Linked DNA regions of Homo sapiens. The protein of the gene in region 4 interacts with the protein of the main gene of each other region in a biochemical or structural test. Each region holds a gene or a part of one and is shown on either strand. Other genes may lie near its edges. The genes, in order: GULP1, RGS12, ANKS1B and ITGB7.

The links.
Region 1: the proteins of ITGB7 (region 4) and GULP1 form a complex in vitro, tested with the Homo sapiens proteins (one study listed by IntAct).
Region 2: the proteins of ITGB7 (region 4) and RGS12 form a complex in vitro, tested with the Homo sapiens proteins (one study listed by IntAct).
Region 3: the proteins of ITGB7 (region 4) and ANKS1B form a complex in vitro, tested with the Homo sapiens proteins (one study listed by IntAct).

Annotation. Positions count from the first base shown.
Region 1 is NC_000002.12:188,286,874-188,295,143, forward strand, and holds the start of GULP1 (PTB domain-containing engulfment adapter protein 1), read left to right. Parts: upstream 1-5,000; 5' UTR 5,001-5,293; exon of another isoform or gene 5,294-5,738; intron 5,739-5,954; exon of another isoform or gene 5,955-6,307; intron 6,308-7,326; exon of another isoform or gene 7,327-7,520; intron 7,521-8,270. UniProt on the Homo sapiens protein: May function as an adapter protein. Required for efficient phagocytosis of apoptotic cells. Modulates cellular glycosphingolipid and cholesterol transport. May play a role in the internalization and endosomal trafficking of various LRP1 ligands, such as PSAP.
Region 2 is NC_000004.12:3,435,848-3,440,919, reverse strand, and holds the end of RGS12 (regulator of G-protein signaling 12), read right to left. Parts: intron 1,466-5,072; coding exon 1,236-1,465; 3' UTR 1,007-1,235; downstream 1-1,006. UniProt on the Homo sapiens protein: Regulates G protein-coupled receptor signaling cascades. Inhibits signal transduction by increasing the GTPase activity of G protein alpha subunits, thereby driving them into their inactive GDP-bound form.
Region 3 is NC_000012.12:99,974,367-99,982,045, reverse strand, and holds part of ANKS1B (ankyrin repeat and sterile alpha motif domain-containing protein 1B), read left to right. Parts: intron 1-7,679. UniProt on the Homo sapiens protein: Isoform 2 may participate in the regulation of nucleoplasmic coilin protein interactions in neuronal and transformed cells. Isoform 3 can regulate global protein synthesis by altering nucleolar numbers.
Region 4 is NC_000012.12:53,203,997-53,212,527, forward strand, and holds the start of ITGB7 (integrin beta-7 isoform a precursor), read right to left. Parts: upstream 3,256-8,531; 5' UTR 3,206-3,255; intron 2,809-3,205; exon of another isoform or gene 2,678-2,808; intron 1-2,677. Other genes in the region: RARG (retinoic acid receptor gamma), read right to left, coding at 7,680-7,867. UniProt on the Homo sapiens protein: Integrin ITGA4/ITGB7 (alpha-4/beta-7) (Peyer patches-specific homing receptor LPAM-1) is an adhesion molecule that mediates lymphocyte migration and homing to gut-associated lymphoid tissue (GALT).

The DNA.
Region 1 (8,270 bases), on a different chromosome or scaffold from region 4:
TCATTATTCTGGGGGAAACAAAAGCCCTATCTTTAGATTTCACATCAGAATAAATTGAAAAACGAAAACTACAAAATACTAGAAGAAAATATTGCTAATTAGTTTGGGTGAAATGTCATTATATTTTTTAAAAACTCAAGAAATCATAAACCGATTACATTTAAAGAAATTCTACATAGTTTTAAAATAGAACAAAATAATTTAATTATTTTAATTAAGTTAATAAGACAAATACCCGTTTTTTGGCTAGAGGTTAATATATTTACCTCATACAGAACCTTTAAAAATCAATAAGAAAAAGAAAAAATATATGAAACAATAGAGAAAAGAGAAAAATGTACAGAATATATAAATAGCCACCTCACAAAAGAAAATATAAACGGTTATTAACTTTATGAAAACTTATTCAGTTTTATTAACAGTGAAAGTAATAAAAATTAAAGCGATTGAGCTGCTAATTTTTCACTAAGATTATTTGAAAATTTAAGTGTTTGGAGAAAAAAAATTAAGGGCCAAGATGGAATAGTTTACATGATGTCATTTAGGTAAACGAAAAATGCATATGAAAATAAATATTTTGAAAGAATACTTACAAAAAAGTAGTAGTATGGGCCGGGCGCAGTGTCTCACGCCTGTAAGCCCAGCACTTTGGGAGGCCGAGGCGGGCGGATGACGAGGTCAGGAGATCAAGACCATTCTGGCTACGGTGAAACCCCGTCTCTACTAAAAATAAAAAATAAAATAAAATAAAAAAATTAGCCGGGAGTGGTGGCGCGGCGCCTGTAGTTCCAGCTACTCAGGAGGCTGAGGCAGGAAAATGGCGTGAACCCGGGAGGCGGAGCTTGCCGTGAGCCGAGATCGCGCCACTGCACTCCAGCCTGGGCGACAGAGGGAGACTCCGTCTCAAAAAAAAAAAAAAAAAAAAAAAAAAAAGGAGTAGTATGTACGTTATACTTCCACATGAAAAAAATGGAAAGAAAATTGTTAAGTGTCTGTGGGTGCTGGGTAATGCCTTTCCTCTACTCCTGGTTTCCATGCAAAAATATTTTACTGGGTCTTTACTTACTTGCCCTTGGAGAGATGTTATGACATTTGGTAGATAAACTTAGGAATAAACTTGGGAAGAATTGCTGGGCATGCCAGGCTCAACTACCTTTCTCTCTCTTTCATTCTTTGGAATAGAACTCAAAAAACAATTTAAATCCTTTTTCAAAGGCACTGTCTCCTTTCAGGTTAGAAGGAGGCCAGGAACTACGTTGACTGAGGCTGCTGTTTCAGTTCTTTGCTTTTGGATCTACCAATTCAAATCCGTTATCTGTCAATCATAGAGTAATATTTTGCTCTCATTTTTTTGGTCAATTTATTCCCCACCCAGGCATAAAGAAGGGATACTATTTATCCGGGTCTCTCAGAGGCCTCAACAAACCTTGGAGCATATAGAGAAAATGTGAGCAATAGGTACTTTTGGTGATGGGAATACAGGTGATATTTATTTCCCTTTTGCAGTTGCCCTCCTATTTTTTTTTCTTTTTTTGCAATGGTCATGTTTCATGTTCTTAATCAAGAAGATCAAAATAAAGCGATTCTTTCAGAATGACAGATAAAATGATAGAGGTTTGAAGGTAAATGTAACACAGTAACTTTGGAACCCAGAGCCCCTAGGAACTCATAGGATATTTGGCCACTGTTACACATGACAAACAGAAACATGACCCCCTTTCAAATCACATGACTGAAATTTGAATTTCAGTCTTGGTTTTCATTACAGTTTTTAAAAAGTTGTCAAATACTTTAAATGTTGGTTTTGCAGAAATATAGGGCTAAACAACCAGCATATTTTTTGTGTGCTTTTGCAATAATCAGAAATAAAATTGGTTTTCTTAAGGTAAGTAACAGGTCGTTTTTTTGTCTTAGCCAAAGTTCCCTTAGTTAGGGTAAGAGAAACTTAATTCTGGTTTGAGCAAGAAAATTAATTTAAAAATACTGGAGGCCAGGCGTGGTGGCTCACACCTGTAATCCCAGCACTTTGGCAGGCCGAGGCGGGTGGATCACGAGGTCAGGAGATTGAGACCATCCTGGCTAGCAGAGTGAAATCTTGTCTCTACTAAAAATACAAAAAAAAAAAAAAAAAAAAAAAAAAATAGCCGGGCATGGTGGCGGCCGCCTGTAGTCCCAGCTACTCGGGCGGCTGAGGAAGGAGAACGGTGTGAACACGGAGGCGGAGCTTGCAGTGAGCCAAGATCGCACCACTGCACTCCAGCCTGGGCGACAAAGCAAGACTCCGCCTCAAAAAAAAAAAATAAATAAATAAATAAAAATAAAAATTACTGGAAAGCTGCTGAGTTTCTATCAGGGTCTATATGAACCTATGATGAATGTGAAGAACTTTCAAATGGAAATCTGAGGTATTTGCAGTAGGTAAAATTAGGCGTATTTGTCATCGTAGTGCCCTGCTAGGCTTCTGCAACCCTTTTCTTTGGCATCTCCCTTCTTCACTTCCTGGGGCATGCTATAAATTTGTTTTAAAATCTTGTTCCATTTGGTTCTATTGTTTTTAAAAACTTGGTTCTGACACTCTTGAGATTTTTATACCTCTAAGCCATTTCACAAAGAAGATCATATCAAAAGTCAGGTTATAAAAATTACAAAGCAATAGCAAGTTTAAAGACTTTAAACAGTGGGAGAAAATATAAAAGTGAGTAATCTTTAGCACTGTATGTAACGATTGGAAAAAGACAGTTATGAGGACTCATCTATCTTCATTTATCCATTCATGATGGATGTGCTTTGTAGCCATATTTTTTTTTCCCTCTTTAGGATCTTCCAAGTCTTATGGATAGGAAAGACAGATCTCTAAAGAGGCTATGATATGCCTTTAGGAAACTGAGGATGAGGCCGGAGTAGTAAATAACTCTTACTTAGAAGGAGTATATAGGGTCTCATCCCTGAGAACATGGGAGTTAGTTATGTAAATGTTCAGATGATTTTCAACATTGTATATGGTAAGGAAGAATTTTTTAAAAAGACCTTCTTACAGGTACTAGAGGCAAATGAATGAGAAATAAGTACATGCTATGGGATTTTCCATTATTTCACAGGATGGAAAGTTTGATCTCTGTAGCCTGATTTTGTTCTTTGGCCTTGAACTTGTTCAAGTTGAATTGTGTGTCCTGAACACTGATCTAGTTGTTCACAAACTAGGGTCAGCCAACTGTAGTGGTATGTTGATGTATTCTTGGGAATCGAGAGTTATTATAATCTTTTAATATTATGGCTAAAAAACCCAAAATATCTATGTGTAAATATATAATGTAAGCATGGATTCGTTCATCTCATCAACCTCCTTATTCCTAAATACTGGACTACCATTTGTTTTATTTTTATAATCACATTGATACCAAGTGATCATCTAAATGACATTATTTAATTTTTAATGATTGTTCATAAATTAATTGCTTAAGAGTTATTTACAGAAAAAAACTAGCATTTGTCCTGAGATTAATATTTTTAATATAATTATTTTTATGTGTGCTTGACTATTGTGATAAAGAGAAAAACAGTTAAAAGAGGACCCCAGCCAAGTTATTATGAGGACTGATTTCTGATATTAGCTTTAGTACCTCCAAACCATGAGATTTGGGGAAAGTCACTTAAGAGCCCTAGACTTCAGTTACCTTGTATTTAAAATAAGGGAGTTCAGCTGGAACTAGTTAATCTGTAAACATAGTTTCCATTTCAAAAATTGTGAAATGATGCCTTTTTAAATGGAAAAAGCATTAAGGAGAAGAAAACTGATTCAGTTACAGGGTCTTTGGGGGAAAATTTCTAGCACCACCCTCTCTCCTAATTACAGTAAAACATGGTGGGATATAAGAACCAAATATTTATTGAGTATTTTCTCTGCGCCTATCACAACTCTATTTTAACTCCTGTAAATGTGACTGTGACTCCGTGAGCTAGATTATAGAATTCCTGTTGACAGTTATAATTGGTAGGCACAGAAAGCGTAAAGATGGAGTTTGGAATGGAATCTGGCCTGTCTGACTCTAAGCCCTGGATCCACTGTAATACATTATAACTGCTAGCTTTGCAAAATGCCTTTTTCCTTTTCTCATCTATTTTCACACTCAAACTAAAATTTAGTAAACTAAATTCTGAGCAGCAGAAAAAATTTTAGTAAAGGTCCTCTCATCCTTGAAGAACTTCTTATATAAGGATACTCCTTCTTGCTCCCTTTCCCACGCAGAACTTTACCAAAGGTCAGTAAGAATGGGCTGTTGTGTTTTCTCTCAAATCCTATACAGAAGTCCTTAATTCCGAGGTAAACATCTGAATGGAACAAATGAGTATGATCTGGGGGTTAAGGCAATTTTCAAGTGTGTGTATGTGTGTGTCTGTTTTAAGGCATAACAAAGTCCAGAGATTAAGGCCGAGTTAAAAAACAAATGAGGACAAACCAATGAGGACAAACCAGTCCGCTGAGGTGCGGCCAGAGCAGCAGCAACTGTGGCTGCTTTCTTGATAAAGGCTGTGAAGACGGCACGTTTTACTCTTATTCGTGTATTTCTTTTGACACTTTACCCCTCTATGAAGCCTCAGAGGTGTTTTAAAATTGTGTTAGGAAACACACAGAGATAAGAAAAGGCAAATGGTCCTGATCTAGTGTCTCAGGGAAGAGGCTGGAAAGGAAACGCGGCGCGAGTGGGGTGGGAGAGGGGGCCTGTGGTTTTGCTTCTGTCCGGGCTGAAGACTGAGTAAGGTAGGGCCCCTCCTTCTGCGGATGGGTTTCTCTCTCATTCCACCCTCCACCCACCTCCGGTTCCGCGTGCACGCGCGAGATAGTCCAGTGGGCCCACAGATAACGACCATCAGAGATTAAAGAAGGAAAGTCAGCGAGCTTGAACACAGGCGTCCCGTGTGGAAATGTCCAAGGAGACCGCCAGAAGTGCGCAAGCCGGAGTCGGCTAGAGTTTCCTTCTCACCGAGAGGGGGAGCCCGGCGTTCCCGGCCGGGAGCGACCCGGAGTCCCCAGCCCCGCGTCCCAGCTGCCGCCAGCGCCAGTTTTGGATTCGGCGGATTAGGAAGAGGAGGGAGGGGGGAGAGAGCGCGAAGAGGGAGGGGACCGAAGCTGGAGGGTCCCGAGTCCAGCGCCGTGTTGGCGTAGAGAAACTTTCCCTCTCGGCCTCGGAGACGGCGCCCCGGCCGTGCCGGAGTGGAGATCGCCAGGCTCGGAGGAACCGGCAGCTCTCCACGCCCCTGCCCGAAGCCTGACCCGACTGCCTCTCTCAGTGAGGTACGGAGATTTATCTAGGCTCTTCCCTGGCTGCGAACCCAGGCTCCCTCCAGGTAGCGTGGAATCGCTTAGAAGCTGATATCCCGAGGGGCGGTGGGGGTGGACAGCTCCGGCCACCAGTGCCCGGGAAGGAGGGCGCGGGGCTGCGCGTAGCCGCTGGCCAGCAGGTTGTAAAAAATTAGGACAGCTAAATGCTCAGGGAGTCGTCCAGCACTAAAGGAGGCTAAGACCTGTTGACGCCTGCTATGGCAGCGCTTGAGAAATGACTGGGGGAGTCCAGCGAGGTCGGGGACGCAGCGGTCTCCGGGCTCCAGAAACCTCCTTAGCCTTTTGTGGTAACTTTGGTCCGGCGGCGGGGGGCCGGTGAGCAGGAACTGGAGGGAGGCGGTGGGGAAACCGTGGATCCGTCCGGCTGAGGGTGCGTGGATCAGACTGGGCTGAGCAGGCAAGTCATCGTCGGGTCACAGCGAGGCGACCCAGGAGCGAACTTCCAGGGCAGCCTCCCTTTTGTTGGCGCTGGGAGAGAATGTGGGCATGGGGGTGGGGAGGCGCGAAGCTCCGAGGCCGGGCCGCGGATACTTTAAAGCTCAGAGCTGGGAGGGCCCAAAGGAAGGGGCGGCGTCCACATGGTTACCCTTCTGCTGCGCGGGTCAAGTAGCTTCTTCTGGAGGGCGCAAGGCGCGGCGGGGGTGATGAGCCCTTGGGTTCTCGCTCCGACTGCTAAATTCGCTTGGCCGGGTCCACCTTCTCGTGGCCTCACTCGCCACACGGATCAGAATCCGGAGCAGGCAGTTCTCTCTATTCTGAGGCTCCTGCGGCTGCCGCGCTGACTTCCCTGTGTGCGGGAGGGAACTCTGGGCAGGCTGGTTTTCTTGGAATGTGTTTACGATGTTGAATGGGACTTGAACAGGAAGCTGGACGCTGCAGCTGGAACTAGCGTGCCAAGGTAGAGTAAGGAAGACTTAGCTGGTGTTGGGCTTGGCGGGTCCACTTGGTACGCTGGGCAAACTCCAAGTAAGTGAGGGCTGGCAGTCAAGGTACCCCTCCCTAGGTCCTAGTAGTGTTTCCCAACTGAGCTCGCCTTACTCATTTGCAATCAGACATTTTACATGCACTATTTCAATCTGCAAGTTTGACAAAGTGTAATGCAGTCAATTAGGAAGGATTTAATAAATTTATTTTGTGCCTGCTTTTAAAATACGTTACACCAACATTTGAGAATAAAAAGTTACGGAGAATGTTCAAGTCATGACTGATTTCTAGGACTAGCAGGAGACAATACTGATGATTTTGTGTCTGTATTACAAAATGGGTGATTAGGTGCTAAAGTAAGGGAGATTATTAGACAGAGTGAATGTGAGGAAGTGGAAAACTTTCAGAGGAATTGGAAATTCTTCAAATTTGCAAATTGCTCCCTTTCTCTGCCAGTCTTTCCCTTTTCCCCCCATATGAACAAGTAGCCTTGGCTGGAAAACCCACAAATTGGGAGAGTGCAGTCGCTGGTGACTACAGGCTTTGCTGGAAACAGCAGACAGGCTAAGGTACTGCCCCACTGCATAATTAAAGGTCTCCTTGAGCTGTCCAGGAGTGTTTTCCAAGTTTTTACGACTGACAAGGAAAAAAAGAGAGGAACCTGGCCGGCAGCCAAACTAGACTGAGCTCAGTAGCCAGGCATGAAAGAGACTGGGCAAGTTGCAGGGGCTAATTGGAAAGGGGCTGTCGGTTGCACTTGGGGTTTAAACAAGAGGTTTCTTTTGCAATGAGAATTTTTAGGTGGCTAAGATCAGTCTTCTTGGCAAAAAAATAAACTAAGCATAGAGTGCAGTTGGATATGACCGAGGAAATTACAAAAAGGGCTCCAGGAGCAAAGTCTGAACTTTCCTTATCAGTGTTGCAGTGGAATAGCTGGGGGCCTGATGCTGTTTGTGCTGATCATACTTTGCAAATGCCCACACTTTGTTGCTGTTTGTCTCCTTGGACGAGGTTTGCTGCAACTTCAATTCCTTGACTTCGGCCTTACTTTGTTTTCATAGCAGCAAGAATTGAAGACTTAAGGGTTTGAGCAGATGGTTTTCTACCTAAATTGAATAATTCAATTACGTATTCTCAGCTAGCATGGATTTGGGTCATGGAATTAAAGTAGAAACGTATCCGGCATGACTTCTTTGTGCTTATCAAAAGTGATCCTGATAAACAGATCTTGCTCTTTCATGTAAAGAAGTAAAAGGTGAGATGATCTCAGTATTTCACACATTTGCCCTTTACTGCTTCCTAATTCCAAACCAGCTAGGAACTCAAAGCCTTAACTGCAATTCAGACTCTTCTTTGTGTATTAAAGTTGTGTATGTTTCATCTCTCTTTTTTTTTTCTTCAGAGAGGTGGGTTGTAGGTTTACTATTGTGGGCTTAGGGGTTAAATGGTTAAAACAAACAAACAAACAAACAAACTAATGTGGTTTATATTTCCTCTGTATTTAAGAGTTTGAGATTGTGAATATTAGCCTGCTTTCTGAGACTCACTTTGTGAATCACCCTCAGCCAAATGTTTTCCCTGACTATGATTTCAGTTTTTCCACTTGCAAAGTAAAGAAACTTTCCTTTACATAATTACAAGATTATTGTGAGAATTAAAGAGATGAAATAATGTTAATAGGCTTTTCGACATAAAGGTCATAGGATTTCTGACTCAGCTGACTCAGTTGAGTTTATGGGGATAAAATAGGAATACTTCTATGTTGAATACCCATGTAATAATGACATATCTGGATCTAATTTATAAAAATTACCACTTTTACATTTTAATCATAGCTTTAATTTAATCATACATTTTAATTTTTGAGGATATAAGGGAGATTTTGTTATGGTTAAGGCTGAGTCATTTTCTCAAACAGAAAAGAACAATTAGCACATTCATTTATTTTTATTTCAGTTTATATTTATACACAAGACCAGTTATTTTTAAAGTCCAGCTTAATTTT
Region 2 (5,072 bases), on a different chromosome or scaffold from region 4:
GGGAGAGAGAATGGACACCCACTGACCACCCAGCTTGACACCGTGGGCCCCAGGGGGCACAGTGCACATGGAGGCGTGGTGGGCCCTGGGGGCACGGTGAATGGGGGGTTGGGGGTTGGGGGGGAGGTCATGGTGGGCCCTGGGGCACGGTGAATGGGGGGTTGGGGGTTGGGGGGGAGGTCATGGTGGGCCCTGGGGGCACGGTGAATGTGGAGGCATGGTGGGTGCTGGGGGCACGGTGAATGGGGGGTTGGGGGTTGGGGGGGAGGTCATGGTGGGCCCTGGGGGCACGGTGAATGTGGAGGCATGGTGGGTGCTGGGAGCAGGATGGATGCGGGCTTGTGGTGGGTGGTACACACAGCTGGCACTGGGCTTCATCTTCCATTCCGACCCCTCCCCCAGCCCCCTTCCTAGAGCACCACTAAGTGGGGTGCATCCACTCCCTGGAAGCTTCTAGAACAGCCCCAGGGGACTGGCTGTGCTCTCGGGCCTCTAGGATGGTCTGAGGAGCTCACCAACCACCCTGTACCGAGGGTACTTGGCTTTAGGGGTTCCATCAAGGCAACCTGGGGAATGGCCCTGCCTCTTCCGACTCAACCCAGCCCCCAAGGCCCCGGCCTCCCCTGCAGCCACACCTGGTTCCCTTTCTGTAATCAGACCCTCCTTAGCCCCAGGGCCTTGGCACAGGCCCAGGGCTCTTTCTAGACTTCCTCTGCCGTCCAGTTGCAGTTTACATGGTCCCTCCCCAGAAAGGCCCTCAGACCACCCTGCTAAACAAGGCTGGGGCAGGGTCCCCACGTGACGGCGAGAGCCAGTCTCTGCCATCTGGTCCTGGCCCTCAGGCCCCAGGAGCCAAGCTTCCCTCTCCTCAAAGCCCCCTTGACCTTACCCTGGGGCACTTCTCCTCCTCAGGCCCCTCTGTTTCCTGCATGACCTCCTGGGGATGTGCTCGGAGTCCCCGAGAACGAGGAGTCTGTGTCCCCAGCACCCAGCACCAGGCCGACGCTTGGGTCCTCAGAAATGCTTTATTGGGCAGCAGGAGGCCAGGGCCAGGGAGCCCCATGGCCAGCATGGCGAATGTCCGGGGCCAGTGCCTCCAGCGAGGTCACCCCCTGCCCTCCTGGCTGGGCTCCTGAGGGTGTGGTGGCCAGGGTGGCCCCCCTGAGGCCCACAGAATCCACCTGGGCTGCCCCACCCCGACATGTCCACAGGAGAGTTGGCCAGGCCAGGGCAGCTCAGACGAAGGTGGCGTGGTGAGCGCTGGTCTTGGGCTTAGCAGGCTCACCCGGGACGGGGCCCAAGCCAGGGAGGTCTGATGTAGGAGGCCCACCACTGGCCTGCGACCTCCCAGGGCCAGCCTGTGCCCCCGCTATGCCACCATCCCGCCCGGGCGCCGAGCCAGTTACAAGATCCACATCGATGATTCTGTTGACTGGGAGGTCTCGGCTGCCATGGGTCCCACTTCCTGTCACAAGGAGAAGAGAAGCTGTCACTTGCCTGGCCCGGCCCTGGGCCCCCGGAACCCACCCCCTACCCCGAAGGCCCCTGCACAGACAGCATGGTAGGGGTCCCTGAAATATCCCAAACACATCCCAGAGGCAGCTGGCGTCCCGCTGTGGGCCTCCAGGCTGGGGCAGGTACGCCCAGGGGAGGTGCAGTGTTCCCAGAGCCCTCCACATAACACCTGCCACCAAGTGGGGGAGCCGACCCACTCAGAAACCCTACCACCCTGCTTCCCCACTGCAGCTCAGGAACAGAGCTGGGCCCCCGGCAGAGCCCCCGCCCCAACTGCCCCCCTAATTCCTCCTGGGGGCGTCCTCAGGGGCCCCCCCAGGCCCAGGGCCCATCCTCAAGGGCCACCCCCAGGGGGCTGAGCACTAGGGTTCAGTTCCAGATAGGCTGGACCCTCTTGGCCTGGTGGAACGGGCCCTGAGCCCTGTGTCTGCTGCCCCATCCCACCCTGCCAGGCTGGCCACCTGCTCGCCCACCTGCCTCGCTGCCTCAGCACCGTCTTCACCGTACACACCCTGCTCTGGGCCTCCCGGTCGTGTCCCCTCCCCCTCCATCCCTGGCCCCCCTACTGAGGCCCCTCTTTCCGGCTGGTCAGTGACTCTTGCCCCACTTCTGGCTCCAATGCCCACTCCAGCCCCAGGAGATCCCGGCTGCCTGAACCGGCCTTGGAAGCTTCTAGACCCAACATGGGCAGGCCATCTCCTTGCCAGCACCCCCGGGAGGCCTCCCTACCCAGGGCGTCACTGCCCTGCCACATCTGGTGACCTCCACGTGGACCCCTGGAAGACACAGTTGTGTCTATGCCAGGGTGGAGTCCCCAGGGGCCAACGAAGGCTGGGGCCAAGGAAAGTGAACGGTGCACGCAGAATGGCTGGGTTCATGTGCCGCCCGGAGCTCCATGGCAGGACCCCAGGGCCTGGGAAGGGGCAGTGAAGCCCCCGTGCTGGGAGAGCCCAGCCCTTCCCGCCCACTGACCCCACCCCCCCATCTGTACGGTGGGGGTGACGTTGCCGACCCGCCCAGTGACCCCACCCCCCCATCTGTGCGGTGGGGGTGACGTTGCCGACCCAGAGGAGCAGGCTTCGGGGGCAGGTTCCTGCGTACCTAGCGTGTCTCCTAGGCAGGGGTCCAGGAGCTCCCTTCCTCAGTGAGCCTGGGGCTGAGGCCCTGAGACAGTCATGTCCATGCCAGGGTGGAGGCCTTGAGGCGCCTATGGGGTGGCAGGAGCCCCAGGCCTGGGCCCACAGCAGACAGGAGGCAGGAAGAGCCAGCCCCCGGCACATGAGAACCAGGGACAGGGGGTCCCTGCTACCAACTGCTGCCCTCCACAGGTGAATCGAAGGCCTGGGAAGGTGAAGACCCTCCTCGATCTACAGTTCTGAGGTCCCTGAAATGGCCGCAGGGTCCTTGCTGCCCCAGCGGCTCCGTGGCCACCAAGGTCCCCAATCCCAGCGTGCCCCTCCTCACCCTCAGTCCAAGCTTCCGGAAGCAGCCTCCATGAGGCATCTGTGAACAAGTCCGGGCTGCGGGCGGAAGGTGTGACTCCCCTCTTGAGCGTGCCCAGCCCGTTCTCTTGAACAGGTCCCAGCAGTGGCCCCAGAGGCCCTCATCCTGGCCTCGACGCAGCAGCCCAGCCAGCATGTGGGAGCTGTGTGGGGCCTGTGTGTCTTACTCAGCCAGGCCCGGTGGAGATGCCATCTGGAGGCCCAGGGGTCCATGTGGAGCAGCTGAGACTAGAAACTTCTCCCAGTCAGGCCTCTGCTCATTCAACAAGTGTCCTACTAGGTTCTGCCAGGGCTAGGAGCTAGCCCTGCCCCCAGGGGACAAGGGGACAGTTCTGCCCATCTCCTTCTTGTCACCAGGTCCGCATGGCTCCAGATGCCAGGCTGCAGGGCTGGGAGATATCGTGTGGGGAGAGGCAGGGGTTTGCCCCCTCTCGCCGGTCAATACCGTGGGCATTTGGGCATTTGCCTGGAGTGTTCATAGGGCTCTGAAGGGGCCTGCAACACCACACATGTCCAGAAGCCCGGCTCTACCCCGCCAGCCCCACATGGACAGATGGGAGGACAGGCCCCTGAGGGCCCCAGGAAGCTAGTGTGCTCAGGATGGAGAAACACTTGTTTCTGGAGACAGGACAGCTCTGTATGGACCAAGGATGTCCACATCACAAGGAGGGGGCCACAGCCAGGCCCTTCCTGCCTACGGGAGCCAGCCTCGCCCTCCTGTGCAGGGCAGCCAGCCCCAGGCCTGTGACTCAGCTGCCTGGCCCCGCCCTGAGCAGCACGCTGCCTCACCACCTACATGCCAGGGCCTGCCCGGGGAGCACCTTCTTGCCCAGCATTTCCCTGGCAGGGATGGCAACACAGAGGACCCAGCAGAGCCTGCACCACCTCCAGAGGGGCCTGGCCTCCTGGTCTCACTCCTGGTGCCACATCTCCAAACATCCAGACCTGAGGCCACACTGGGATCTTGTTCCCTGCCGCTTGGGCCACCTGTGAACCTCTCCCCGGCGCCCCACGGCTCCCTGCCCTCGGCTGGCTGGTCCTGCCGGCTCCGACTGTGCTGTCCAGCCTTCCCAGGAGGGGGTCCTGCTGGAGGCCCCACAAGATGCAGCAGGAAGGCCCCTCTTTCCACATGCGCAGGCCCCTCACCGGCTGCCGGTCGCCCCCAGGCCTCCCAGACACTTGTCCATGAATGTCTCTGTGCCAGCCACTGCCAGCTGCTCTGGCCTAGGCCTGGGGCAGGACCCCGCCCCACCCTGGTCCTCAAAGCTGAGTCAGGAACCCTGGCAGGCACAGCGGGAGCAGGGGCTGCACTGGCCTGGCCGGGGCAGGGGCATGGCCTGAACTCTCCCAGGCTCTCCTTCGAGACCCAGGCCTGGCACCTCTCCCACTGCCCGCCCTTCCTGCCCCCCGAGGGACCCCGTCCCCCAGGCACTTTGCTCAGCCTCTGCCTCCATGCTCCACATCATCTGTGCTGCCAAGCGCAGCCACCTCCTCTGTGAAGCCTCCCCAGCGCCCCTTGGAAGCTCGCAGGGCACAAGGACACCCAGGCAAGGCTGAGCCGGCTCACACTGAGAACACGGCAGGAAGGGGGGAGCGAGGGGAGCCAGAGGCGGGGACCCTACAATCCACTGTGGCTCCCAAGGCCCCTTCCCTTCCCAGCCTTCCCACCACAGCGCACCCCACGGGCTCCTGCTAAGGCCTGTGCACTCCTGCTGATGGGCCCCCATGGGAACGAGAGCACCCCCAGAACCTTAGTTCCAGAGTGTGACCCCCCCAAGGTCCCCCTGTCCGTGTGGGTCCCCAGCCAGGATCATGACTGTGTGTGATGGGCTGGGGCTGGGATAGAGCTCCTCAAATATTTGCTGGGCATTGGCGAGGGAGTGGACAGCGCCCAGCAGGGTGCACAGTGTGGTGAGTGGGGAATAGGGGAGTGGGGAATAGGGGAGTGGGGGTGACTGAGGGCACAGGAGTGCATGTGGCAGACCCCAGGGAGGGGCTTCAAGCCGGAGCTCCAGCAGTGCGGGCTGAGATGGGCACAGGTGGCCAGTCCTGGAG
Region 3 (7,679 bases), about 47 Mb from region 4:
ATGAGAGTTGAAATTGTATTCTTTGGGCAATCATTTGCATAAAATGACATTCCTAAGAAGGCACATTTTATTTAGTTGTCACTTTATTTCAAAAATGATTGTCATCAGAAATTTATTGGCAGGATAATGGAAAATGTGTCCCCCGTCAAACATAATGACACTTTGAAATTTCTTAATGTTTTAGAAGGAACTGTAGAATATGTTTGGCACTTTTTCCCCGCTTGCTTTATTACCTGGGTTGTGTAATAATGGTGTCAGACCCTATGCTAAGTGCTTACACGTGTCATCTCATTCAATTCTTGTGTCAGCCTTAGGAGGTCCATTGTCATTTCACAGATGAAGGAATAAAAAGATAAGATTAAGGACTTGCCCATGGTCACTTAATTAATAATGGCAAAGATTTGAAAATCTGTGATTCAGATTTGTTTTACAACATTTTAAGTCTCATTCATTGAATCTGTTTTATTCACAAAAGTTTAAAGGTATGTGGCCAATTTAGACAGGCCAATCTGAACATTTTTTGCTATGAAGAATAATTTGAAATTCCTTAAATTTTGGTATTTTTTTCTAATTAAAAAAATCTCACAACTGCCCTTTGAGGGTTCACTAGACAAGAACTTTTCTGAAGATGCTTCTGATTACTTGTTATCTACTGGTAATAAGAAATTATCCTTTCAACAGTAACTATGTAATGGGGAATCAGGTATGCTTTTGGGTGGCACTGCAATTTTCAGCAAATGTAAGAATGCCATTGAATAAATTTAAAAACCTCTCTAAGCCTCACTATTCTATCAGAGTGGAAATAGTAATAATAGTACCTATCATATAAGATCATTATAAGGATTAAATGAAGTATAAAGTAATGAATGCAAAACATTTAGCATATAGGTGTTCATCGTTAGTGTTAATATTTTTCATGCACCTCTAAAGCACTTGACTGTATTCTTTAAGGCCTTAATGACTAAAGATTTGCTTCCTATTGGACTGGGAGTAAATTTCCCATAGCAATCATAGAATCGTCAAATAAGGAGGGAACTTTCTTCCAACTTCTCACCTAGTGCGGAAATTTTCTCTGTAACATTTCTTACCTGTTAGTTATTCCAGCCCTGTTAAACCTTCCAATGACTAGATTCATTCTATTTTTGACAGCTGTAATTATTTTAAAATTTTTCTTTTCATTGAGCTAAAATCCACTTCCCTGTGACTTTCAGCAATTGGTAGTAGATTGGCTGTATGGGTCAATATAAAGCAGTCTAATTCATCTGCAGGATAGTTCTTTAGATGCATGTATTTTTGTTTTCTTATAAGTATTTTTCATGGAAGAGCTATCATCTCTGTTAACCTTTTATATGGCAAGACAGCATAGATGTTAAGAACTTAGTTTTCATACTTTTCTCTACTCTCTCTTTCCTTCTTTACATATTCTCAAATTTTGCAATGACCCTCTTAAAGTATGGTGACTAGAAATTCACAAAATGCAGTAGATGTCCCTTGACCAGAGTAGAACATTATGGCTGAATAAGAAAACCAAGGACAGCAGGTTACAAGAAGCATTTATAGTATGATCTTATTTTTGCAAGAAAAAATAAGTTTGTTTGAACACTTATAATGTGCTTAAGAAGTCTGGAATGATAAGATGCCAAAATGAAGATAGTATTCATCTTTGAGTGGTGGAATTGTGGTTGGGCTTTATTTTCAGTGTTCTGTAATGAATATGTATTATGTAATTAAAATAAAATAGCAGCTATTAAAACATGATACAATGAAATTATTATCTCTTTATTATTGATCTAAGACCTACCTACAGGTCAAGATTTTCTGGGCCATGTAATGGTGTTGGCTCATGTTGAACATACAGTCAATTAAAATTTCCTGGTATTTTTTTTTTTCAATGACCTGTGAAGCCAGGTCCCCTTTCTGGTACTTTTAAAAGTGTTGATTGAGCTTAAATTATTCCTGTTCCTTTTTATCTGATTTGTTTTATGTTGTATTTGTAATTTCTCTATATCTTTTTGACTCTTTTTTTTCTTCTTTCTGACTCTTGAGTCTGTCTTTCAGCGTATTAACTTCTCTCCCCTGTATCATCCAGAGATGTAATAAGCATGTTTTCTATAACCTAAATTCAACACACTGTGCTATATCCCCAAAGCACCTCTCTTCAACTTAGTATAAATTTAAAAGTAACAGTCTTTACTCATGGTATTTCTACCAGGATTGAAGCCACGCAATGACAATCAGCTATTTCTCTCCATTGTTCCTGTGAGAATATTGTGAGGTATTTTATCTACTGCCTTTCTAAATTCACACTGTATTTAAGTGTATGGCATTCTTTTGATCTATCCTTTAAATTCCATCAAAATCAGTCTACTTTATTATGGCTTGTTTCTGGCAGTGAGCCATTGGTAATTCCTAGTATTGGCAAAAATTCCTTCTACCCTCTTGCATCTAATTCTTCTGGGTCTGGATATGCATACTTATTTAAAGCAGCTTACTGTCCCTTATGGTCTCGTTTGGACCTTCAGTAATCTCCTGAAGTTATTTGTTTATCCCTTCTGATTTGAAAATGGTTCTCAATAGGGAAAATAGAAGCAAAATAAAAGTTGGGAAGAATTAGATTCTTGGCATTGTTAGATATCATAGAAAATTATCTTGTGGTTTAAAACTACCCACAGTTTTCCTTTTACTCTGCCAGAACTGAAGGTGAAATTAGTGAACTGTTACACCTCTTTTCTCTTTTTCAAACTTAGCTAAAAAGGACATTAGCATTTTTCCTGGACAAGTATATATTTCTTTTTTTGTGTTTGCTTGCAGTTATACCTCTTACTACCCCCTTTCATCCTTAAAGAAATCTGAGCTCATCAGAGCACTAAAATTGAGTTGCCTCCCTCCTTTTCTTCCTCTACATTTTATGTGAAATTTCAGTTTATTTAACATATCTTTTATGAGACAGCTGCAAAATCTTAAAAAAAAACCTCTCTTCCTTTGGCACAACTACCTTTTATTCTAAACAAAACTAATTTCCATTTAAAATGTATATTTAATTAATTTTTTGCTGAGTATAGGATAGAGAATTATTTGTATTTTAATACAGTGATAAAACTTTATTAATGCCTCAATTTATTTGATTTTCTTAATGCCTCGAAGAGTTGAGTTTTATATAAGGTGTATTTAGTAAATTCTTGTCAGAAATAAATAATACAGTTCTTAAGATCCCCATGTGAAAAAGTAGATCAATAAGAAGTGGAGCAAAACAATCTTCTGGTCACCAAAAACATAAAAACCAGAGAGCTTATAATTTTTCAGATTTAGGATTCAGCTCATGTCATTTTGGTGATGAATACAGGGAGATAACAGACAACTAGGAAGTACTGTAATTTTCACAACTATTTGGGCAATTGTGGTTATTGGGACCCTGATATAAGAAACTCACTTTCAGGGAAACTGCATTGGTTAAATGGAATAAATCACAAATAGAGCAGTTAAGCTCCATGAAAATGTTATATCTATAAAAATAGTCAAGTTGCAAGTGGGTTATCTATTTTAGATAGTAATGATGTTTGAAGTGGTGATTGCACCATTATGTTCAGGGAGCTGTATCTGCCAGAGTGAACAGTGCCAGCTGCATGATGGGGAGTAAGGAGAAAGGAGGGTGAATTTTGGTATTGACCTCTTTCTCCACTGAGCAGGGTTTTCAGCTCCCTTTTCAAAACACTGAGGGTGATGTGTAGCAGTGAACTAGGGCAGCCAGCCAGTGACTACTACTCAACCTGTCCATCCATTGCACAGTTTCTTGTGTGACTCGATTTCTTACAGATGACAAAGGCTGATGCAAGTCTTCACTGACATTAAGGCAGAAGCATATAATATTTATTAGTGCCTCTGCTGACTTTAGCAACTTAACCTTTCAGGTGACAGTAAACAATTTGATTAGTTCAGTTATATACTGAAATAATTTTGAGGTAATTTTGGAAAATTCTATCAGAAGCCTATGATAGAACATTATTCCTGAGTATTTAACTAGAAATGGAAGCTGACTATAATGCCAGACAAAGGTTAGAAAAGACTAATTTCAACCTATGGAACCTGAAGATATTTAACACTTAATGCATTTTAGAGTGTCTTTAGTTTCCGTTTTGGACATATTGCAGAATGATGTTAGTTAATTAAAATACAGTGAGTTTTTATTACTCATCATATGTTGATATGGGAGAATATTTTATATTTGAAAAAGGAATTTACAAAGAAGACGCTTCTATCTTCCAGTTCTTTCTCATGCATGTGAGGACATGGTTATGTAAGCCGTACGGGCAGGCAGAGGCACAATGCCAGTTGAAAACTCATTGAATTTTCTTGTGTAATACAGATCTAGAAACTTTTCTTAAGAGTCTACTTTTCTTCTTTGGTGTCAGTAGGATATCAAATACATTTTACATTTGTGTTAAATCTGGATGAGGCTTTTAATTGATATTTGAAGATGGATCAAAAAATATGACCAAAGGATAAATTTTGTTTTCCACAGTGCTATGATTTGAGTGTTGTCTCCAAAACTCATGTTGAAATTTATTTGTCATTGTGACAGTATGAAGAGATGGGATCTGTCTGGACGTGGTGGCTCACACCTGTAATCGCAGGCTTTGGGAGGCTGAGACGGGAGTATCACTTGAGGCCAGGGGTTCAAGAATAGCCTAGGCAACATAGTGAGACCCTGTCTCTATAAAAAACAAAACAAAACAAAATGGCCAGGTGTGGCATTGCACGTCTGTAGCCCCAACTACTTGAGAGGCTGGGTGGGGAGAATTGCTTGAACCCAGGAGTTTGAGGCTGCAGTGAGCAATGATCATGCCCCTGAACTCCAGCCTAGGTGACAGAGTGAGACCCTACTCAAAATAAAAACAAAACAAACAGGTGAGATCTTTTAGAGGTGATTAGGCCATGAGGGCTCTGCATGTATGAATGGATTAATGCCATTATTGTGGGAGTGGGTTAGGTGTCATGGGAGGCTCCTCACAAAATAATGAGTTCAGCCCAATTTCCTCTTTCTGTTGCCCATGCTTGCTTGCCCTTCTGCCTTCTGCCATGGGATGATGCAATAAGAAGGTCCTCACCAAATGCTGAGCAAATGCTAGTACCATGCTCTTTTACTTCCCAGCATCCAGAAATGTGAATCACAAAAACATACATTGTTTGTAAACTACCCAGTCTCAGGTACTCTCTTATAGGAACACAAAATAGACTAAGACACTCTGTTTCTTCTACTGCACTGTCCAGAGTGTTCATCTCTGAATCTGATTCTTATGAATCATGTTTCTTATTAAATGACATGTCTTCATGGATCTAGTTGTGAAATGGAACTTTGATTAAGCTGTGCAGTAGAGTTATTTGGATTCTATTGTGTTATGAGAGTAGCTTTATTTGAAGTGGTTAATCACTTCTAGTTAACTGAACTGAAACAAACTGCTTAGACTTGTTACCATTCTTTGATCAAATTGGATCAAATCTTGATTGATGGATGTGAGCATAAACAGCCAACCTCCTTTCCTGTTTCTATTTCCCACACCACATTCCCTTTAACCCTCCTCAATCACATCTCAGAAAAAAAGCGTTTTTTTCTAATTACTACAAGTTCACCCTGGCTCCAGTTTTTGTGCCAGCTGGCATCATCTCTAGATTCCAGCCTATCTGAATATTTAAAAAAAATTTTCAACAGATTTTAGATACAGGAAGTATGTATGTAGATTAGTTACATGGAAATATTGCATGACACTGAGGTTTGGAGCATGGATCCTGTCACCTAGGTAGTGAGCATAGTACCTAATAGGCTGTTTTTTAATCTACCCCCCTTCCACCCTCTAGTAGTCCACTGTGTCTTTCGTTCCCTTATTTATGTCCACATATGCTTTATATTTAGCTCCCACTTATAAGTGAGAACATGTGGTATTTGGTCTTCTGTTCCTGTGTTAATTTTCTTAGGATTATGGCCTCCAGCTCCATCCATGTTGCTGCAGAGGACATGGATTCATTCTTTTTTATGGCTACCTAGTATTCCATGGTGTATATGTACCACATTTTCTTGTCCAGTCTACCATTGATGGGCATCTAGATTGATTCCATGTCTTTGCTATTGTGCATAGCACAGCAATGAACATGAATGCATGTGTCTTTTTGGTAGAATGATTTATTTTCTTTTGGGTATATACACAGCAATGGGATTGCTGGGTCGAATGGTAGCAATTTTAGGTTCTTTGAGAAATCTCTGTACTACCTTCCACACTGACAGACAACCTACAGAATGGGAGAAGATATTTGCAATCTGTGTATCTGACAAAGGCCTAATATCCAGAAGCTATAGGGAACTTAAGTCAACAAGCAAAAAACAAGTAACTCTATTAAAAAATGAGTAAAGTACATGAACAGACATTTCTCAAAAGAAGACATACAAGTGGCCAACAAACATAAAAAATGCTCAGCATCACTAGTTATCAGAGAAATGCAAATCAAAACCACAGTGAGAGATAGCATCTCACACTAGTCAGAATGGCTGTTATTTAAAAGTCGAAAGACAATAGATGCTGGTGAGGCTGCAGAGGAAAGGGAATGCTTATACCTCAATGTTAATTTATCCTCTAACGTCATGGACCCAGTGCCTTTTCTTTCCTTTCTTTACCACCAAAAAGTGTTTGTGGGACCTGACAGTTAATTCATAGTGAAGTTGTAATTGATTGGTAAAGCTTTTAGAAAGAAGCAGCTCTTTTCGTATTTTCATTTAAAGAGGCAACAAAACATTAGGCCAAAATAGTAAAGCCATCGACCTCTTCTGGCAGAACAAATGGAGTGGATTTTGCCAGGCTCGTAAGAGAATGTTGGATACAGGTGGTAATTCTTCCATTTTTTTGGAGACAAGTTCTCACTCTGTCACCCAGGCCGGGGTGCTGTGGTGCAATCACAGCTTACTGCAGCCTCATTGCCCCCCAGGGTCAAGTGATTCTCATGTCTTAGACCCCAAGTAGCTGGGACTACCAGCATGTGCCACCATGCCCAACCAATTTTTTGATTTTTTTTTATAAGGACAGAGCCTCACTGTTCCTCAAACTCCTGCCATACATAGTGATTCTTCTGATGAATCTGTGCAAAGTAAATTGAAAACCTTCTGGAAAGGATTGACCATGCTAGACACCATTAAGAACATTTGTGGGCCAGGCACAGTGGCTCATGCCCGTAATCCCAGCTCTTTGGGAGGCCAAGGTAGGAGGATCACTTGAATCCAGGAGTTCAAGACCAACTTGGGCAACATAGGGAAACCCTGTCTGTTGGGGTCTGTTGTTGAGGGCTCAAGTGATCCTCCTGCCTTGCTGTTCTTGAACTCCTGGGTTGGTCTCGAACTCCTGGGATCAAGCCATCCTCCTGACTTGGCCTCCCAAAGTTCTGGGATTATAGGTGTGAACCACCATGCCTGGCTAATTCTTCCTTCTTAAAGGCTGAAGGGGAAGGGATTTGACTGGAGACATGAGAAATGAGAGAGTATATGGCTGGTGATAGAAAAGTATTTTCTTTTTGCTACTCATTTAGTCTCTAGAATTTTTTATTGGATTATATAAACCCATTTTAGATATAAACATATATTATTTGCCTATATCAGACGTTATTACTTAGATGTACAGGCATAGCTCAGACATATTGTG
Region 4 (8,531 bases):
GTAGAAAGAACCCAGATGTCCATCAACTGATGAATGGATAAAGAAAAGGTGGTATATCCATACAGCAGAACGTTATTTGGCCATAAAAAGCAATGAAATGGGTCTGGGCACAGTGGCTCACGACTGTAATCCCAGCACTTTGGGAGGCCGAGGCGGGTGGATCACTTGAGATCAGGAGTTCAAAACCAGCCATACCAACATGGTGAAACCCCATATCTACTAAAAATACAAAAATTATCCAGGCATGGTGGTGGTCTCCTGTAACCCTAGCTACTTGGGAGGCTGAGGCAGGAAAATCGCTTGAACCCAGGAGGCGGAGGTTGCAGTGAGCCGAGATTGTGCCATTTCATTCCAGCCTGGGCAACAAGAGCAAAACTCGGTCTCAAAAAAAAAAAAAAAATGAAGTACTGATACATACATGCTACAACATGGATGAACCTTGAAAACATGCTCAGTGAACAAAACCATTCATGAAAGGTCACATATTGTATGATTCCACATATGGAACATATCCAAACTAGAAAAATCCACAGAGACAGAAGGTAGATTAGTGGTTACCAGAGCTTGGGAGAAGGGGAAGTGGGGAATGACTGCTTAATGGGCAGTTTCATTTTAGGGTGATGAATAAGTTCTGGAATTAGTGAATGTACTTAATGCCACTGAATTGTACACTTAAAAGGGGTAAAAATGATAAATGTTTGTGTATCTTACCATTTTAAAAATCAAAAAGTTAAATAAGATGGTGAGAAATCTCCTACTCCATATGCCATACCCAGTTCCCACACCTACCCTAAATAAATATCATTTACTACTATCTTTGTTTCTTTTTTCTTTACCTTTTTTTTTTTTTTTTTTTTGGCAGAGTCCCACTCTGTCGACCAGGCTGGAATGCAGTGGCGTGATGTACAACCTCTGCCTCCTGGGTTCAAGTGAGTCGTGTGCCTCATCCTCCTGAGTAGCTGGGATTACAGGTGTGAGCCACCACACCCAGCTAATTTTTGTGTTTTTAGTAGAGACAGAGTTTCACTATGTTGGCCAGGCTGGTCTCGAACCCCTGACTTCAAGTGATCCACCCACCTCGGCCTCCCAAAGTGCTGGAATTACAGGCATGAGCCACTGTGCCTGGCCTTAAATTGTTTCTAGTTCCCTATGACAAATAATGCTGAAATGAAAAGTAATGTATGTATTTATTTATTTATTCATTTGAGAGATAGGGTCTTGCTCTGTCACCCGGCTGTAGTGTACTGGTGCAATCATGGCTCACTGCTGCCTTGACCTTGCCGGCTCAATTGATCCTTCCACCTCAGCCTCCCGAGTAGCTGGTACTACAGGCGCATGCTACCATGTCTGGCTAATTATTTTTGTATTATTTTGCAGAGATGGGGCTTCCCCATGTTGCCCAGGCTGGTCTAGAACTCCTGAGCTCAAGCGACCCACCTGCCTCGGCCTCCCAAATTGCCGTGATTACAGGCGTGAGCCATCACCCCCAGCCAAATGTCATGTATTTATCATTTCACACGTCTGCAACTGAATCTGTAGGATAAATCCCTAGCAGAGGACGTGCAGGATAACTAGATAGGTATCATTTGTAATACTGGTGTGTATTTCATCTACATTCTCATGCTAAGAAATATATATATATAGGTGGGTATTGCCAACATAAACTCTTCAGGACTTGTACTGGTCCACATTCCCATCAGCAATGTATGAGAAAGGCCAACTAACTCCTTGTCATAAACCATTTGCATCTTCTTCAGCCTGGGCCCAGAGTCAGGTCCAGATACTCTGCACAGAGTGTGGGAAAGGGGTGGGGTGTTGAGTCCTTGAATGTCCTGGTCCTGCTCCCCACCACCTGTGACCTCAGGCGCCATATATAACGGAGCCTCCACCCCTCGGGGAGAGGCCAGTCCCAGCTCAGCCTCAGCGTAACCTCAGCCCTGCTTGCTCTGCATGCCTGTGGTCAGGGAGGCTGGAGATGCTGCAACCCAAAGCCGGGTTTTGACTCATCTCTCACAAGTGGAGCCCCGGCTGCCGCATAGGTTTTTCAGAGACCTTAGGCCCACTCATCTCCCCTTAAAGGGGGCCCTGGGACTTCCTGGACAGCCCTTTCCTACCTTTCTTTCCAATTATCCTCTCTTCTCCCCTCCTTGAGAATACATGTTCTGCCACCTATTTCTCTGTCTGCTTCTCTGTCTCTCTCTGGCTCCTTTCATTTCAAAACTTCTATTGCATCTCTCTGCTGCTTTTCTCTGCTCCACTTCTTCATAGGGCTATTTTACTTCCTTTTCCCCTCTGTTCCTAACTATAGAATGGCTGAATCTACTACTCCATCCCACTCTTTTTACAAATGGAAACCTAAATTCCATGAGGCCAGGGTCACCCAGTGAACTAGGGGCAGGGCAGGACAGGGCAGGGCCAGGCCTCTGCTGTGCTTTCTCCTTTCCTCCCTCCAACCCAGGCACTATCTCCATCAAAAGTTGTGTTCTCTCCCCACTAGCCCTGGTGGGCTCTGCCTAATCCCATTTCTCTTTCCTTAGGGGTATTCTGCAGTCTTCCCTTCTCTCTCTGGGACCAAGTGGTTATTTCCATTTTTCTGGACTCCATTCTGACTCCAGTACACACCCTGTGACCCCCCTCAGCAGCTGAGAAACAGAGCCTCTTCCAAACCCATCCCTACCTTCCAAATCAAGCAGAACCCTCTGCTGCCCACTGGGAGTCACAAGGAGGGGACGGAACTGAGCTGCTGGGCCTCAGTGTCCCAGGACAGTGGAGTCTGTGACCAAGGTGCCGATTAGGAAGAAGTCTGAGCTGAAGGCAGAGCATTAGGGATAGCAGCTGGGGGTGATGTTGGAAGAACCCTCCCTCAGTATAATCGGTATACCTGCCCTACTTCGGTATAGTCCTTGGCACATGGCAGGCACTCAGATGACAGCACTCATATACATCCCTGCCTCCAGACCCACTCATGGGAAACTGATGCAGGAGAGATTGGGCTTTTGGAGAGGTGGAGGTGGGGGTACTGTGAAACTGGAGGAGGGAACCAGGTCAGGGGATCTTAGGAATGCAGAAAGGAGTTCAGAGCCTTTCTCAAGTCTGGACAGGACCCTCGGTATCCAGGTCAGAGCCCTCTTCCCAAGAGGTTGGGACCAGGTGGGCCAGAGCTTGTAAGGAGAGGAGGCAGAAGGGCTGGTGCCCTGGTACTCACAGGTGCGTGCAGAGCAGTCCTTCCTCTGGCGGCAGCAGCAGCCTTTGTGTACTGATCTGGGAGACGGCAGAGGAGGAAGTGACACTCCCCAGGGTGGGGAAGATTTGGGGTTGGTGGGGGTGACTGATCTAGAAGGTGGTGCAGATAGGGGTGGGGCTGAGCCAAGGGAGTGGACAATACAGAGATCTGGAAGAAAGAAGCCCATTTATTGAACCCCTGTCATGTGTTGAACGTAACATATTACAATTAACCCTCACAACAATCTCATAAGATAGGGGTTAATATTCCCCCAAGCCCCAATTTTACAGATGCAGAGATTGAGGCTTGGAAGCAGGAAATAAAGAATTTTGCCCAAGGTCCCACAGCTAGTAAGTAGCTAGTCTAGGATTTAAAAAAAAAAAAGAAAAAAGATTTTTATTTTAAATTTTTATTATTTTATTTTTTTTATTTTAATTTAATTTAACTTTTGAGACAGGGTCTTGCTCTGTTTCCCAGGCACAATCTCAGCTCACTGTCCCATGGCACAATCTCAGCTCACTGCAAACTCCGCCTCCCAGGTTCAAGCGATTCTCCTGCCTCAGCCTCCCGAATAGCTGGGATTACAGGGGTGCACTACCATGCCCAGCAACGTTTTATATTCTTAATAGAGACGGGGTTTCACCATGTTGGCCAGGCTGGTCTCAAACTCTTGACCTCAATTGATCTGCCCACCTCGGCCTCCCAAAGTGCTGGGATTACAGGTGTGGGCCACCATGCCCAGCCTGTTTTTTATTTTTGAGACAGGGTCTTGCTGTGTTGCCCAGGCTGGTCTGTAACTCCTGGACTCAAGCAATCCTCCCACTTTGGCCTCCTGAGTAGCTGGGATTACAGGCACACTCGGCTGGTCTGGGATTTAAATCCAGGTCTGCCTGCCTCCAAAATTCATGATCTCTCCATTTACTTATATAGGAAGGAACATGATAGGAGGGAATAGGGGCAGTAAGTACTGTAGAGAGGCCAGAAATTACAGACTTGTTCATTTTGAAAACCCAGGATACATTATATAAGTGTGCTTGACTACATAGGCTCTGGAGCCAAGTTGCTAGAGTTCAAATCCTGGCTCTACTACTTACTAGTAGTAAGGAGCTTAGCTGAGTTACTTAAACCTGCCTGCAGCTGTTTTCTCATCTGTCCAGCAAGACTCACAGGATTGTCGTGAGAATTAAAAGAGATAATTCATATCAATTGCCTACAAGACTACCTGGCACATACTAAGTAAGGGCTTGATAAGAGAATTAGTAGGGATGAGAAGTAGCAGAGGTGAGAAGTGAAGAGGCTTTGAGAAATTCAAGGTCCACACAACTGGAAACTTGGAAGAGAGAGGCATAGGGCCAGGCTCAGAGCATGTGATTGGGGAACCAGGAGCCAACACAGTAGTGGATCCTGGGAAAGGGGTGGAGGAGGTGAACTGGGAGAAGCAGAGAGTGCAGGAACAACAGCTGAAGCCAAGGCAAGGATGAAGCCCGTAGGGAGAGCAGGAAAATATTAATGGGATTTGCTCCTGGCCCATACAGATCACTAAGAGCTTTGAGAGGGAACTAGACATGAGGTCTGTGTTCACAGGTCGATCTCCCCTACCAGAAGGAGCACTCCTTGTAGGCAGGGACTGGCTCTACAAGGCTTCCCTGCTGGAGCCACCACACCTAGCCAAGTGCCCATCTTATAGTAGGTGCTCAATAAATGTCAGATGGATTGCAGAGGTGTAGCTGCTAGGAGGGGACAATTGGAGAGGAGGGGCTCTTTCTCTGGGTGGGCTTGGCTGGCCTCAGGCTATGGGATAGCCAGGACCTATACCCTTCCCCCACAACCAGGGGTTACCACGGCAATGACCCTCCTTCCCCACAGGCCCTGTGGTTTCCTCTAGAGCTTCTTTCACTTTCTTCTTCTGCTTTCCGCCCTCCACTCTTCTCTCCCCTACTCCCACATCCTCAACTTTTTTGTCATAACCACAGGTCACCAATGAAGAGAGCCAGGAACAAGGTAGGCAAGGCACTGTCCCAGGGAAGGTAGGACACGGAGGAGGGGCTTGAGGGGAGTCACAGAGGGCGAAGGGAAGAGTACAGGGTGCAGCAGTAGAGGCCAAAGGCACTGCAAAGGCGTGTTGCAGAGGGAAGGCGTGTGGGAGCAAGGACAGATATTCGGAAAGAAGGTAACAGTGCAGGTGGCAGTGAGTGGAGGTCATGGGGTGAAGAGTGGGAACAGAGAGGGTGGGGGGAGTAAGGTATAAGGTGATAGCAGGGTGGTTGGGGACAGAAGGCCAGAGGGCTCCCTGGGTGAGGGGCTGGTGTAAAACAGTAACACTGTAGCTTAGATGCGGGCTTCTTCTCTTCTGGGGCCAGGAGCCCTCATGAGAACTAAATGAAACTTCAGGGCAGGCATGGTGGCTCACGCCTGTAATCTCAACACTTTGGGAGGCTGAAGTAGGTGGATCACTTGAGGTCAGGAGTTCGAGACCAGCCTAGCCAACATGGTGAAACCCCATCTCTACTAAAAATACAAAAATTAGCTGAGCATGGTGGTGCGCCCCTGTAATCCCAGCTACTTGGGAGGCTGAGGCAGGAGAATCGCTTGAACCCGGGAGGCAGAAGTTGCAGTGAGCCAAGATCACACCACTGCACTCCAGACTGGGCAACAGGAGTGAAATTCCGTCTCAAGAAAAAAAATGAAAAACAAAAAGATAAATAAAACTTCAATGGACTCCTTCCCCAGAGAAAAGCAGATATGCACATATGCATAACTGGAGGTGGAGACAGGCTTACAGACCTCTGAAGTCCATTCATGCCCTCCCAGAGATCCACAGGATCCAACATAAGAACCCACACCAAGCTAGACGCAGTGGCTCACGCCTGTAATCCCAGCACTTTGGGAGTCCAAGGCAGGCGGATCACCTGAGGTCAGGAGTTCGAGACCAGCCTGGCCAACATGGCGAAACCTGTCTCTACTAAAAATAAAAAAAATTAGCTGGGCGTGGTGGTGCACCCCTGTAATTGCAGCTACTCGGGAGGCTGAGGCAAGAGAATTGCTTGAACCTGGGAAGTGGAGGTTACAGTAAGCCGAGATCACACCACTGCACTCCAGCATGGGCGACAGAGTGAGATTCTGAACCCACACCTGGTGGTTGTGGGAAACCCGGTCACTCAGGGTGAGTCCCCATGGGCTCCCTTTCCCCCATCCTGTCCCCACCACAATCCAGGCACACTTCATCCTGTTTTCTTCTACCAAGAAAGCTGCAAAGTCCAATCAATTACAAGCTTTCCCTCCTCACTCAGCTCCCTCACCAGGTCAGCTGGTCATTTCCCTACCACCTCCTAAAGGGAGCCACATCTCATGAGTTTCCATCACTTTATTTTGCAAAAATAGAAAACTCAGCAATATGCGATACAGCGGGGTAGAGGGGAGATGTAAACAGAGGGGAGGGGACAGCACCCTGACCCCCCAAGAGAACACAGGGAGCCAATGGGAATCTTATTTGGCAGCTAAATACAAACTGGGGATTGGAGGAAGAAAGGAGGGGTCACAGGGGCCCTGGGCTCCCCCACCCAAGACCCCTGGAGGAAGGGGTCAATTCCACGGTGTAAACAAAAGCTAATAAATAAATAGAGGCTTCCTCTGGGTCAGGGCGGGATCAGCTAAGCAGCATCCCCCCTCCCTGGGCCAAGCTGCTCTGGGGAGTAAAGGGTGGAAGGCACTAGGGAGAGAGGGATCCCCTGGCCCCTCTGTAGTGTAGGAGGGTCCCTGCCCCAATGGCTGAGATGGAGGGCAGGAGGAGCCCAAGGCACATGACAGGGCTGGGGGAGGGACTTATAACGGAGGGCACAGGGTGAACTCTGCACCCGAGCCAAGAGGTGCAGAATGGACCTGCATCTATCTGTCCCTTTCACCCTCTGTTCCTGCCCCAGAAATGCAGGGCCCAGCCTGCCCCCACCTTGACCTGGCACAAGGACGGGGCACAGAGGCTAGCACACACCCTGCAGGTGCATCACACAGCATTAGGCACCAAGGGTAGGAGCAAGAAGGTGGGCTCAGCCCTTCTCCTTTGTCCCCTTTTTGGTCTCTAGTGTTCCTGTTTGCTCTCAGAGAGCCAAGCACCTGGCAGAGGAAGGGGCTGTGGAATGGCAGGGTCTTCCTCTTGCCCTGGGAAGTCTAGGACCCATGGGGCAGTGCTGAGATTTTAGAGTCCAAACCCAGGCTCATCCCTTTGCCCTCTCTCCTGGTGGGAGCAGGGCAGGCCCCCGGGACTGGCGAGGGAGCCGGTTAGATCAGGAAGGGGATGAACACAGAGGCACCCCTAGAAACTTTGGCAAAAACAAGGAGCTCATTGGAAGGGGTGGGGAGAGGGCAGAGCAGGTCCTCCCCCAGTCACTGGCGGTCTGGGAGATGGTCAGTCTGCTGCCTGAAGCCCCAACCCCCACAGCGGGGAGGTCAGGGGCCCTGGTCAGGCTGGGGACTTCAGGCCCCCTTTGCCCTGGCCCCCAGGAACCTCATCCTCGCTAGAGGCATTGGGGTGGGGACCAGGCTGCGAGGAGTCATCCTCAAACATTTCAGGGTTCTCCAGCATCTCTCGGATTAAGGGAGGCATCGGGCCTGGAATCTCCATCTTCAGAGTAATGGCCCTTTCAGCTCCTACAATGGAGAGAGAAAGAGAGAGGCTCAGGAGGACAGAGGCACATGGCCCTTAAGGCCATCTCCCTAACCTTTCTCAACTGCCCCTGACTCCCCTAGGGGGCGCCCAGCACAGGCCCACCACCTCTCCGTCCCCAGCTCATCCTCTTCTCACTAGGCTTCCTGGGTGCCACTCCTCTGCCTGGAACCTCTACCTGGCCTTCTCTACCAGGCTTGCTGCCCATTCATCCCATTCTTTCAGGCTGTCTCTTCAGCGAGCGCAATGCACACAACTTCCAACCCCACTCCCCAAGTACCCCACTCTCGAATGTCCAGAGCTTGTCACTTGTTCCTAGTCCTGTTCTCTTAATAACATTTATTACCACAGCTAATATTTATCAAACACTATGTTCCAGACATCCTTCTAAGCCTGGACTGTCCAATAGAACTTTGCAATGATAGGAATACAGTAGTCATTGGCCACATGTGGCAATCTGAAATGTGACTACTGCAACTGCAGAATGGAATTTTTAATTCAGCACAATTCTAAGTACACTGTATATGTTACAGGTTTTTTTTGTTGTGTTGTTGTTGTTGTTGTTGTTTTAGAGGCAGGGTCTTGCTGGGTTACCCAGGCTGGACTGCAGTGGCTATTCACAGGTACAATCATAGCTCACTGCAGCTT